Linked DNA regions of Homo sapiens. The protein of the gene in region 1 interacts with the protein of each later gene in a biochemical or structural test. Each region holds a gene or a part of one and is shown on either strand. Other genes may lie near its edges.

Region 1 (4,423 bases):
AGTTCATTTCTTTCTGTGAAATGATCAGGTTGAACAAACAGGCACACAACAAAGTGACTTGGGTCAAATCACTATCACCACCCAGTTTTCAAGGGCAATGGCAGTCAAGAAGTCGCCGGGGAGTGATACTCTTCTATCCCTTTAATTAAGGCGGGGCTTTTAAAACTCAATTGTTCCATCCGTGTCTCAAATCAATCAGATGAAATTCACCTTTTACGTGGCCTGAATCCTGATAGCTCAGCACACTTGATAGGTAATTTAATCACGTCTGGTGTAGATGAACGCAAACTCAAATTAGCGCTGAAAGAGTTGGTCTTCTCAGAGATAGCTGTGCTTTTCCACTTTTATGCAAGAGCTGAGCTTCACCAACTGGCTAGCTGGAGGTGTTATTAAAAATTTAGTGAAAGAAACAAAGGTGTGCTCTGGTGTCTCTTGTTACCCTTTCTACTGTTACTCCAGCAGACAAAAGGCATAGAGCCTGCCTCATGAATAATGTGACATGGAATATTCACAATCTATTTTTAATGGAGTCAAGTAATAACATTAAGAGAGATATTTGCAATCTTCAAATTTCACACGGTAACAGGCACAGTAATTTGTTTTGATTCTGAACTGGGGATATCAAGATACATTTTTTACCAAAAAAAAAAAAAAAAGGCATACAGTTAACATCAAAATTACAATTCCTCACTTAGAGCATAAACAGGGATAACAAAAATGGACCAAATGTTCTAAACGTCATAAGGGAAGAGCAGGACAGCACAGGCACCTAGATTTCAATCAGTTCTACTTACCCCTCAGTGCAACTTCTTTACTTTTCAAACCAGGTTGGAAATAACCAACCAGTACACAGGGTGACTTCTGTGGGAAGGATGTTTTTGTCATTTTCATTCACTGGGAGGATTGTCTCCCAGGACACTAGGAAGTGGTTCCTGGACGCTGCAACTGTTCATCATCCATCAGTTCTGAAAAACTATCTTAAACTCCATTACAGAGTAAACGAATTTAAATTCTGAATGAGAGTAAACTGACATGGAAAGACATGGTGCTGGAAATCAGGTGAGGACAGCCAAGGACTGAGATTTGGAGAAACCAGAGAAAAGCAGCATTCAAGCCCCCCTTTCCTGCCAACCTGGAGAGAAAGTCGTGTGGATTCTATTTGTTTCCCAGGCTGTCAAGCAATCTCTCTTCCCTTTGTGCTGTAGAGAGCAGAGCCAGGCCCTAGGATGAAGCAGGAGCTTATTTTCTGTTTATTCACTTAACATCTCAGTAAATATTTATTAATCTCCTACTGTGTGCCAGGCACTATTCTGGGAACTGAGGATTCAACAATGAATAAATAAAGCTTCGTAAGACATTGTCCTCACTGCTATATCTCCACCCCCTAGAAGAATGCCCAGCACATACTGGGTGCTCAATTATATGTGTGAAATCAATTTGAGTTGGAAATGGGCAATCTGCTGGTTCTCACCATGGGGCATGCATACCCTGAATGTCTGGCTGGGAGGTGTTAAAGCACTAGTAGTAGGGATTTTGGCCAGGATTTTATTCTGGTTTCATTCTCTTAAAGGATTGACTTATGCAAAAAACTCCCACAGGTGGGACAGAACCAGAAATAACCCAGATCCTCATGGGCCTTTAGATTTGTGACTTGCATTAGGGGAGGCAGCTAACCAATCTCACACTTTTTTTCCTTTCCAGTCTCCACAGAATCAAAGCGGTCAGGGTTGGACAGGAATGACAGAGCTGTCTCCGTATTACTTGATCAAGGAAACCAGTATCGGGGAAGTCAAAAGATTTACACAAGTCACATGATGTGTTGGTGACAGAGCTGTGACTAAAACTAAAACCTAGACCTAAGACCTGTGATTTCTTTATTCATCTGGGAGCCTTCAGGCCCCTAAAAAAATATGTTGACATTTTCAGAGGAAAGAGCTTACTTACGTGCCTGTGGAACCATCAGGGGCTCTACAAGGTAGTAGCTTAGTTTTGTACACCTCCTAGTTTTTCTCTTATGAAAGAAGATGAAAGAAGTATCTCTGAGGTGTAGCAGCAAAGGAGAAAGTATATGGAAACCCGAGCAATTGGATTTTACTCTTCTGGATATTAGCTTGTGTGCTTCACTTTTATACTCCATTGCAGTTTCCTTCAGTGCCAGCTTTCCCCCTACAGACTAAAACAAAGGTCTTCCCCAAATTCCCTGCCTAAAGGAAAGGCAATCTGTAATACTCTTAATACTTTATTAACTTAAAACATCACTCTAATAAATATGTATTAACAAACATAATGCTTACCAGAAGATCTAAAAACATTTACCAACCTCATCAAAGTGAAAATACCACCTTTCCCCCCTCTATGGTACACATGGAGGGTCAAAGAGTTGAAGACAGAGCCTTCCTTCCCACATGCCTGCTAGCTCAGAAATCTTTAAAATATCAGCTTAACAATAAAAAACTGAATATACACACATATCTTTGAAGTAACTGTTCAGCTTTTTGTTTACACCTGATAAAATCCAAAAGGGTCAAAAGGGAAGGTTTACAATTCTGTGCTGTCTTCTCAGAATTCCCTCCAAGAGTAAGAACAGACCCAGCCACTTGGAGGTGCAACCGTTAGCTTTTGAGGAGCAGTCAGGGGTTGTGACTTCAGTCTCTCTTCCCCAATACCTAGCATGGTGCCTGGTACCTTGGTAGCCGGTGATCCATGAACATTTGCTGAGTGAATGAATGACATCTTGTCCACAGGCATTGCTTGTGCTTTTACCTCCAGTGATGAGGTTTTCACAGCCCTACTGAAGGGAGGACCTCTAATCCCCTCTCATTACCAACTTCTCTTCTGCTTCTTCTTGGGGGTAGCCTCGATGGTGCATCTCATGACTTCAAAGTATTAAATTCCTTCCCCAAGTCAGTTTCTGAATCAGTTTTTGAGGAGGAGAAATGATTCCTCCAAGATTTATAGGCAGCACCCAAAAGAAAGGAGTCAACAGACCCCCCAGAAGGAAAAAAATAAAAGTTAACACTCACTCTTCTTTCTAGATAAAAATATTAGCATTTGTCCACCTTGTAAATGGTGATTCCTCCTCTTCCACACAAATATCTGGGGTAGGTCAAGAGGGGGGAGGGAAGAAACCTGAAGGGCATTCCTGTCTGTAGATTAGGGCTGGAAATGGGAAGGACTGTGGGGTCTAAGATTTATTCTGGTCCCCATTTGACTTTGCCTTTGTCTTCAGGTGTAGAGGAGCCTATTTGTGTCCGAAGCCTAGAGAGTCACTTGGTTCTCACTCTCGGCTGCACTTTGAAAAGGTACCTCATTTCTTCTGGCAGCTCCAGGAGGTAAGGCGAAGGAGGAGCAACCTGGTAGGATCTGCAGACTGGACCTGGGGTCTGGAAAGTCAGAAGGGAGTGGAGGCAAGCAGGGAGCAGAGTGGTGGCAAGCAGGGAGGCTGCCCTCTGTAGTGTTGTGTAGCTGCTGCTTGCAGCCAGCCAGGGTGCTCATTTGAGCCCATGCTGCGTCTCCCGGTGCCTTCGGAGGTCCACCTTCCTCTGGAAACCCTTCCCACAGAGGTCGCAGCCGAAGGGCTTGAAGCCTGTGTGTTTGCGGCTGTGGGTGATGAGGTTGGAGCTCTGGCTGAATGCCTTGCCGCACACCTGGCACTTGTGAGGCTTCTCACCTGTGGGGATGGGAGGGGGAGGGGAGAAAGTATGAGTCTATGATAAAGCTAGAGGGGACCCACTGTGACCCACATGCTCTTGGCAGCAGCTGGTTGCACCACAGTCTAAGGCCTTCAAGCAACTTGGAGGGTGACGTGTTGCAACCTGAACTGACTCCCAGCCTGCAATGCGAGTCCCTGGAAGCACCATGGGGGCACCAGGTGAAAGGGAGACTTTCTGAAGGGGGGTTCCCAGCCAAAGGCCTCAAACGGTTTCCTGCTAAACGGAAACAGAGCAAAGGCCACGTGCCCTCCCCAGCTGAATCTACCCCGGGAGGACTCCCCTGACTTTATAAGCCATGAACACTCAGAGCAGATGTTCAACAGGAAGGGGAGGGGGAAGCTGTCCTAAAACCGTGTGACTCCGTTCTAATTCAGAGGAAGTTTTCAAATCTGAATTTCCAAGTGGGTGTTAGTTTGTATGGATCAGTGAGCCCGTCTTCTTTCTTGTTCTTGAAGGACAGCAGATTATATCTGAAAAAACATCTTAACATGGACTTTCTTTCTTTCTTTATTTCTCTCTCTCTCTCTCTTTCTTTCTAAGTTCCGGGGTACATGTGCAGGATACGTTTTTCAATATCTTATTTTAAAAATCCACATTTGGGCCACAAAGGATTAAGGCAGCTGATACTTTACTGTCTTGATTTTTCCTTAATTTTATGGGGTTAATCACATGATTCTTTATATACCAGCAATTCTTCACCACAAATTAAT
Region 2 (7,040 bases), on another chromosome or scaffold:
CATTTGTGCTGCCTCCTCCTTTGAAATGCCTGTTAAGTCTTCTCCCCATTTTTTATTGAGTTATTTTGTTATTCCAAATGGATCCTTCCCCCTTCTCCCATGTCCAGTTCCTAGAACCAAATGGATTTTTAGGAGTTTTGTTTACTCTGAATACTGATCCTTTGCCAGTTATTTTTTTTATTTTTATTTTTATTTTTATTTTTTTTAAAGACAGAGTCTTGCTCTGTCTCCCAGGCTGGAGTGCAGTAGTGCAGTCTCTGCTCACTGCAACCTCCACCTCCCAGGTTCAAGCGATCCTCCTGCTTCAGTCTCCCAAGTAGCTGGGATTACAGGCATGAGCCAACACTCCCGGATAGGGTTTCACCATATTGGCCAGGTTGGTCTCAAACTCCTGACCTCAAGTGATTTACCCACCTCGGCCTCCCAAAGTGCTGAGACTACAGGTGTGAGCCACTGCGCCCAGCCATATATATAGAATTTTTTTTTTTTTTTGAGACAGAATCTCGCTCTGTCTTGCAGGCTGGAGTGCAATGGCACAATCTCAGCTCACTGCAACCTCTGCCTCCCGGGTTCGAACGATTCTCTTGCCTCAGGCTCCCAAGTAGCTGGGACTATAGGCACGTGCCACCATGCCCAGCTAATTTTTGTATTTTTAGTAGAGACGGGTTTCACCATCTTGGCCAGGCTGGTCTCAAACTCCTGACCTCAAGTGATCTGCCCGCCTCGGCCTCCCAAAGTGCTGGGATTGCAGGAGTAAGCCACTGCGCCTGGCCTAGAAGTTTATATATTGAATTATCTTCCAGCTTATGGCTTGGCTTTTGACTTTGGTGTCTTCTGATGAATTGAGGTTCTTAAATGTAGCATGATTTATTGGGCTTTATATTTTTTATTATTCCTTTATATTTTGCATTTTCTGTCTTGAGAAAAAAAGTCTTTGTACTGAGATAAAAGGAAGCTTAGTTCTGTGAGAAAGTAGAGACAAAGATGCTCTAAACATCTTTCTCTGTCCTGTTATTGTTCAGGGGTAAAAATGTCTTTAGCTTCTGATTGCCTTCATTTCTGCTTTTTGTTTTGTAGATACAAGTCCAATTCTGCTCAACTGCTTGTTGAGGCTCGAGTTCAGCCTAATCCATCAAAACATGTGAGTGTCTATTACTTGAATGAGGCTTCTCCTAATTGCATGTGGTTCTTGCTTTGGCTTGCAGTGTCCTTAAGAGCTATCTTTACTTGGCTGGGTGCGGTGTGGCTCACGCCTGTAATCCCAGCACTTTGGGAGGCTGAGGCGGGTGGATTACGAGGTCAGGAGATCGAGACCATCCTGGCTAACACGGTGAAACCCTGTCTCTACTAAAAATACAAAAAAAAAAAATTAGCCGGATGTGGTGGCAGGCACCTGTAGTCCCAGCTACTCGGGAGGCTAAGGCAGGAGAAAGGCGTGAACCCGGGAGGCGGAGCTTGCAGTGAGCCAAGATCATGCCACTGCACTCCAACCTGGGCGACAGAGCGAGACTCTGTCTCAAAAAAAAAAGGAGCTCTCTTTGCTTTGTTTATAGTTCAACATGCCCACAATATTTGTTCTAGTATTGACTTAAATCTTCTGTTATGGTTTGAAAAGTTTCCTTATAGATAGGGACTAAGTCATTGCCTGTCCTTGGGCCCTCTCCAGCCCCACTTTCCTCTCTGCACTTTCAGCCTGCACTCCATTCCTTCTGGGTGCTTTGGTGTGTCTGAGATTACTGCATATGTCTTCTGTTTGTGCCTTCCCTTCCTAGAATGTTCAGACTCTGGCTCCACCTTTGCTTATAGGGAGGGAATTCACCTTTAAAGACCCCAGTCCGGCCAGGCACGGTGGCTCACGCCCATAATCCCAGCACTTTGGGGGGCCGAGGCGGGCGGATCACTTGAGGTCAGGAGCTTGAGACCAGCCTGGCCAACATGGTGAAACCCCATCTCTACTAAAAATACAAAAATTAGCCAGGCCTGGTGGCGCATGCCTGTAATCCTAGCTACTTGGGAGGCTGAGGCAGGAGAACTGGTTGAACCCGGGAGGTGGAGGTTGCAGTGAGCCAAGATCGCACCCCTGCATGCACTCCAGCCTGGGCGACAGACACTCCATCAGAAGAAAAAAAAAATCTAAGCCACCTCTGACAAAGCCTGTCTCCTGGATCATTCCCCTGGAAACTCACCTAATTATATCTATAAACTTTTACATGTGTGTTATAGTGATTAACTCATATCATTTTACCACCCCTACCATAGAAGCTGTATTTTAACAATGCATAGCAATTTCCTGTTTATCTAGGAGCTAAACGAACATATGTCGAATATTTTTTGAATGAGGGCCATGCTAAAATAGATCTTGGAAGGCAGAATTGGGGCTCAGATCACCACATAATTTCTGCAGCCTCTTAAGACAAAGGTTTCCAGAAGCAAAATGGATAAACATGAGAATCCAGTTCTTTTTCTCAACTTGTTTTTTTATATTCCCAGTTAACTAAAAAGAACCTAATGTTCTTGTAAGTGGACTTTTCCATTGGTTTGTGGTTTTAGCCAAGGTCCCCAGATTGTCTTTCTCTGCCAGTTTGTGTAGCATGATGTGGATTCTGGAGTTCATGCTATACAGTTATTTGCACACATTCTAGAAGAGTTTCTTCCCCTAGTTGGTGTCTCCACATCCCCCCCGCCAATATTAATTACATGTGACATCTGGTGTATTAAGGATGAGTTGTAACTTGGTAAAGGCTGTAGTATTTTGTGGTTTGGGTACGTCGATATAGTGAAACCACTGTCCTTGACAAGTAAAACTACAGTGTTGGCTGTTAGAAGATTTATAAACTCATCCTCTAATAACCTTTGTGACTAGGTTTCTAGTAGTTGTGAGGGGCAACTCTGCTGTGCTTAACAGGGGTAGTCTACAAAAGAAACCTGATAGCTTCTAAAAGAATTTGGACTAAGTGACTTCTAAGGACCTTGGCAATTCTGAAACCCTGAGTTTTTCAGTCTGCCATTATAAACCACTGTAAGTTCTCATTTCAGCCTTGTTTCTGCCTCTGAATCCTGGTGATTTTGCAAGCCCAGCCCAGCTGCCACCTCCTTCAGGAAGCCTTCCTGGTATATACTTTTAGCTTAGTACCCTTGGGACTCAGAGTCCACACATTGCAGTTGAGCTCTGATACTTGTTGCAGGGTGAGGATCACTTTCCATGCACCCGGCTGCATGAGGTACCCTTATGGCCTTCTGGACCTGACTCCTCTTTGGCTCATGTGGCTCTGTTTCTCTCCAGGTTCCCACATCCCATCCCCCTCACCACTGTGCAGTGTGTATGCAGTTTGTGCGAAAGGAAAACCTACTCTCTCTGGCCTGTCAGCACCAGTTTTGCCGCAGCTGCTGGGAGCAGCACTGCTCAGTTCTCGTCAAGGACGGCGTGGGCGTGGGTGAGTCTGCCACAAAACTTATAAAAAGCTGGCATGAAGTGTTTATCTTTGACTCTGCCTTTTCATGTACTCAAGTAAACTGAGTATTTTCTTCTGAGCCTGATTGGGGTTTTTATCATCAGAACTAGTGATTTTCAAATACATCCATACAAACAGTGACAAAGTTTTCCCCAGTCCTCAGCAAAACGAGAAAACTAAATATACTGTTGTAAATGTTGGCGTGAGTGCAGAGCTACCTTCTCTCACCTTTTGGGAGAACGATCCTTTAAGCTGCCTACCTTGATTCCACAAGTGGCAGCCATAACTCAGAAATGCCCACAAGAGTTTGCTGCTATTTAGGTAACATAGCACAAATCAAATTTGATGATTAGTTACAGAAGTATTTGTTATACTGTGATTTGATGATACTGAAACACATTAGCATCGCATTAATTGATATCTGCAAAGTCCCACAATTGGTGATAATCACCTCTAAATAATGTTAAACATCACAAAACTCAATTGTTAGTCAAGAACCTATATAAGGATTTTTTAAATGGTTTTGTTATTTAATGGTGCCGTTAGTGATACAATTTGGGATAATATTTTAGTTTCATTGCTGTGAAAATATGCTAATTTCTCTCTTCTCTTTGAATAAATTCTGTTGCTTGAAGAGTTTCTTTTATGCAACTTGGATTTGTTGACAGAACTAGGTGGGCAAGTTGTGTCTTCTGCAGTATGCTTGTCCATCACTTTTTTGGGTTTGTTTTTTTTTTGTTTGTTTGTTTGTTTGTTTTTTGAGACAGTTTCGCTCTTGTTGCCCAGGCTGGAGTACAATTGCATGATCTCAGCTCACCACAACCACTGCCTCCCGGGTTCAAGCGATTCTCCTGCCTCAGCCTCCTGAGTAGTTGGGATTACAGGCATGTGCCACCACACCTGGCTAATTTTTTTTTTTTTTTTTTTTTTTTGAGACGGAGTCTCGCTCTGTCGCCCAGGCTGGAGTGCAGTGGCGGGATCTCGGCTCACTGCAAGCTCCGCCTCCCGGGTTCACGCCATTCTCCTGCCCCAGCCTCCCAAGTAGCTGGGACTACAGGCGCCCGCCACTACGCCCGGCTAATTTTTTGTGTTTTTAGTAGAGACTGGGTTTCTCCATATTGGTCAGACTGGTCTCGAACTCCCGACCTCAGGTGATCTGCCTGCCTTGGCCTCCCAAAGTGCTGGGATTACAGGCATGAGCTATCGCACCTGGCCCCATCAGGTTGTTTTTGTTCAACAGGAGTCTCTTGCATGGCTCAGGACTGTCCACTCCGTACACCAGAGGACTTTGTGTTTCCATTGCTTCCCAATGAAGAATTGAGAGAGAAATACAGGCGCTACCTCTTCAGGGACTATGTGGAGGTATGGCCAGCCTTTGTTCTGCCCTCTGTCTTCCCGGGCCTACCTTCCATCAGAGGGTCACCACAGTTACTTACTTTGTAGACTAGGCTGACATTAAGTGATAGTGTTCAAAGAAAGCGCTCCATGGCTTTAAAAAAAGTTTGAAAACCACTGGAGTGATAGTGAAGAGTACAGGCCTTAGAATCAGACACACCATTGTGTGAAACTTGGATACTTCCTTTCTTTGTGACCACTCTTTTTTTTGCGTGTGTGACTGCCTTGCTGTGTTGCCTGGCTGGAGTGCAGTGGCGCAATCTTGGCTCACTGCAACCTCCGCCTCCCAGGTTTAAGCGATTCTCCTGCCTCAGCCTCCCGAGTAGCTGGGACTACAGGCATGCACCACCACTCGCAGCTAATTTTTGTATTTTTAGTAGAGACGGGGTTTCACCAGGATGATCTTGATCTCTTGACCTCATGATCTGCCCCCCTCGGCCTCCCAAAGTGCTGGGATTACAGGCGTGAGCCACTGCACCCAGCCTCTTTCTTTTTTTTTTTTTTTTTAACCTCTGAGTCTTGATTTTCTCTTCCATAGACAGACCTCCCCACCTTATACATAGTTGCTTAAAGAAGCTATTGTGTGTCAGCAGGTGAATACAAATTAGGCATATTTAGGAGCTGCTGTTAGATTCAGTTTCCTGTGTGGTTGAGCAGAGAGAAGGGGTATTGCTTTTTGAGTAATTGGAAAACTTGTCCAGGATTCAGCGTGGTCACTTTTGGAGTCCTTTCCCTCTATTAGGCCATCTGCTAGGCCTGCTGATTCCATGCAATATAATTTTCTTTTCTTTTTCTTTTTCTTCTTTTTTTTTTTTGGAGACAGGGTTTTACTCTGTCATCCAGGCTGGAGTATAGAGGCACAAACATGGCTCACTGCAGCCTCTGACCTCCCAGGCTCAAGCAATCCTCCCACCTTAGCCTCCCGAGCAACTGGGACTACTGGCGCGCACCACCAAACCCAGCTAATTTTTGTATTTTTCGTAAAGATGGGTGTTTCACCATCTTGCCCAGGCTGGTCTCGAACTTCTGAGCTCAAGCCATTCACCCGATGCAGCATAACTTTCATCTTTGTCTTTTTTGCCTAAGCTTTTCAGATTAATTTATGGTCTGGGTCTTGTCATGCACATGCCGCAGGATAAACAGAAGGCCTTGTTCTTTATGCTGTTTGCTGCCTTTGAGGGTCATTGAGCTCCTCAGATATATGTTTTTTTTTTTTTTTTGAGATGGAGTCTCACTCTGTCACCGAGGCCGGAGTACAGGGACACGATCTCAGCTCAATGCAACCTCTATCTCCCAGGTTCAAGCGATTCTGCAGCCTCAGCCTCCTGAGTAGCTGAGGTTACAAGCTCGCGCCACCACACCCAACTAATTTTTGTGTTTTTTAGTAGAGACAGGGTTTCACCATGTTGGCCAGGCTGGTCTCAAACTCCTGACCTCAGGTGATCCACCTGCCTCGGCCTCCCAAAGTGCTGGGATTACAGGCATGAGCCACCGCGCCCGGCCTTGTTATTTTTTATTTTTTTCAGAGACAGAGTTTCACTGTCATCCAGGCTGGAATGCATCGGTGCAATCAGCTCACTGCAGCCTGAAATTTCAGGCCTCAAGCAGTCTTCCCACCTCAGCCTCCTGAGTAGCTAGGACTATAGGCAGGAGCCACTATGCCTGGTGCAATTCTATATAAACTTAGATCATTCCAGTGAGTTGCTACCTGGTTTAAGCTAAACGTTCTAAATTCCTCTTTAATATCTGGCTTACGTTTGGTCTTCACATCCTTTCTGAATTTATATAGCCCCTTCGTATAAGTCATCAGCTGGGAGAACAGAAAGTGTTTGAATATTCAGGGGGTTCTGATTTTTAGACAGCAACTAAGAGATGTCCTCATTGTTTCCTCTTGGTGTGTTCACAGAGTCATTACCAGCTCCAGCTGTGCCCTGGTGCAGACTGCCCCATGGTTATTCGGGTACAGGAGCCTAGAGCTCGCCGAGTACAGTGCAATCGGTGCAACGAGGTCTTCTGGTAAGAGTGAGTGTGAGTGCTGAGCAGCCCTGGGCTCATGCCCCATCCTCCAAAGCACCACTGCTGTTGCTCCATGTGAGGGCGGCACTGGAAGAGGCAGGGTCTCTGAGCCAACAGAACAGCTGTGCTCCAAGTGGGTAGGTTTATGTCCAGCATCTCATATTCCACTAGGTCTTC

What was found.
Region 2: the proteins of GFI1 (region 1) and ARIH2 form a complex in vitro, tested with the Homo sapiens proteins (one study listed by BioGRID).

The regions. Positions count from the first base shown.
Region 1 is NC_000001.11:92,472,538-92,476,960, forward strand, and holds the end of GFI1 (zinc finger protein Gfi-1), read right to left. Parts: intron 3,671-4,423; coding exon 3,492-3,670; 3' UTR 506-3,491; downstream 1-505. UniProt on the Homo sapiens protein: Transcription repressor essential for hematopoiesis. Functions in a cell-context and development-specific manner. Binds to 5'-TAAATCAC[AT]GCA-3' in the promoter region of a large number of genes.
Region 2 is NC_000003.12:48,963,842-48,970,881, forward strand, and holds part of ARIH2 (E3 ubiquitin-protein ligase ARIH2), read left to right. Parts: intron 1-1,077; coding exon 1,078-1,141; intron 1,142-3,283; coding exon 3,284-3,434; intron 3,435-4,219; exon of another isoform or gene 4,220-4,336; intron 4,337-4,692; coding exon 4,693-4,814; intron 4,815-6,753; coding exon 6,754-6,863; exon of another isoform or gene 6,864-7,000; intron 7,001-7,040.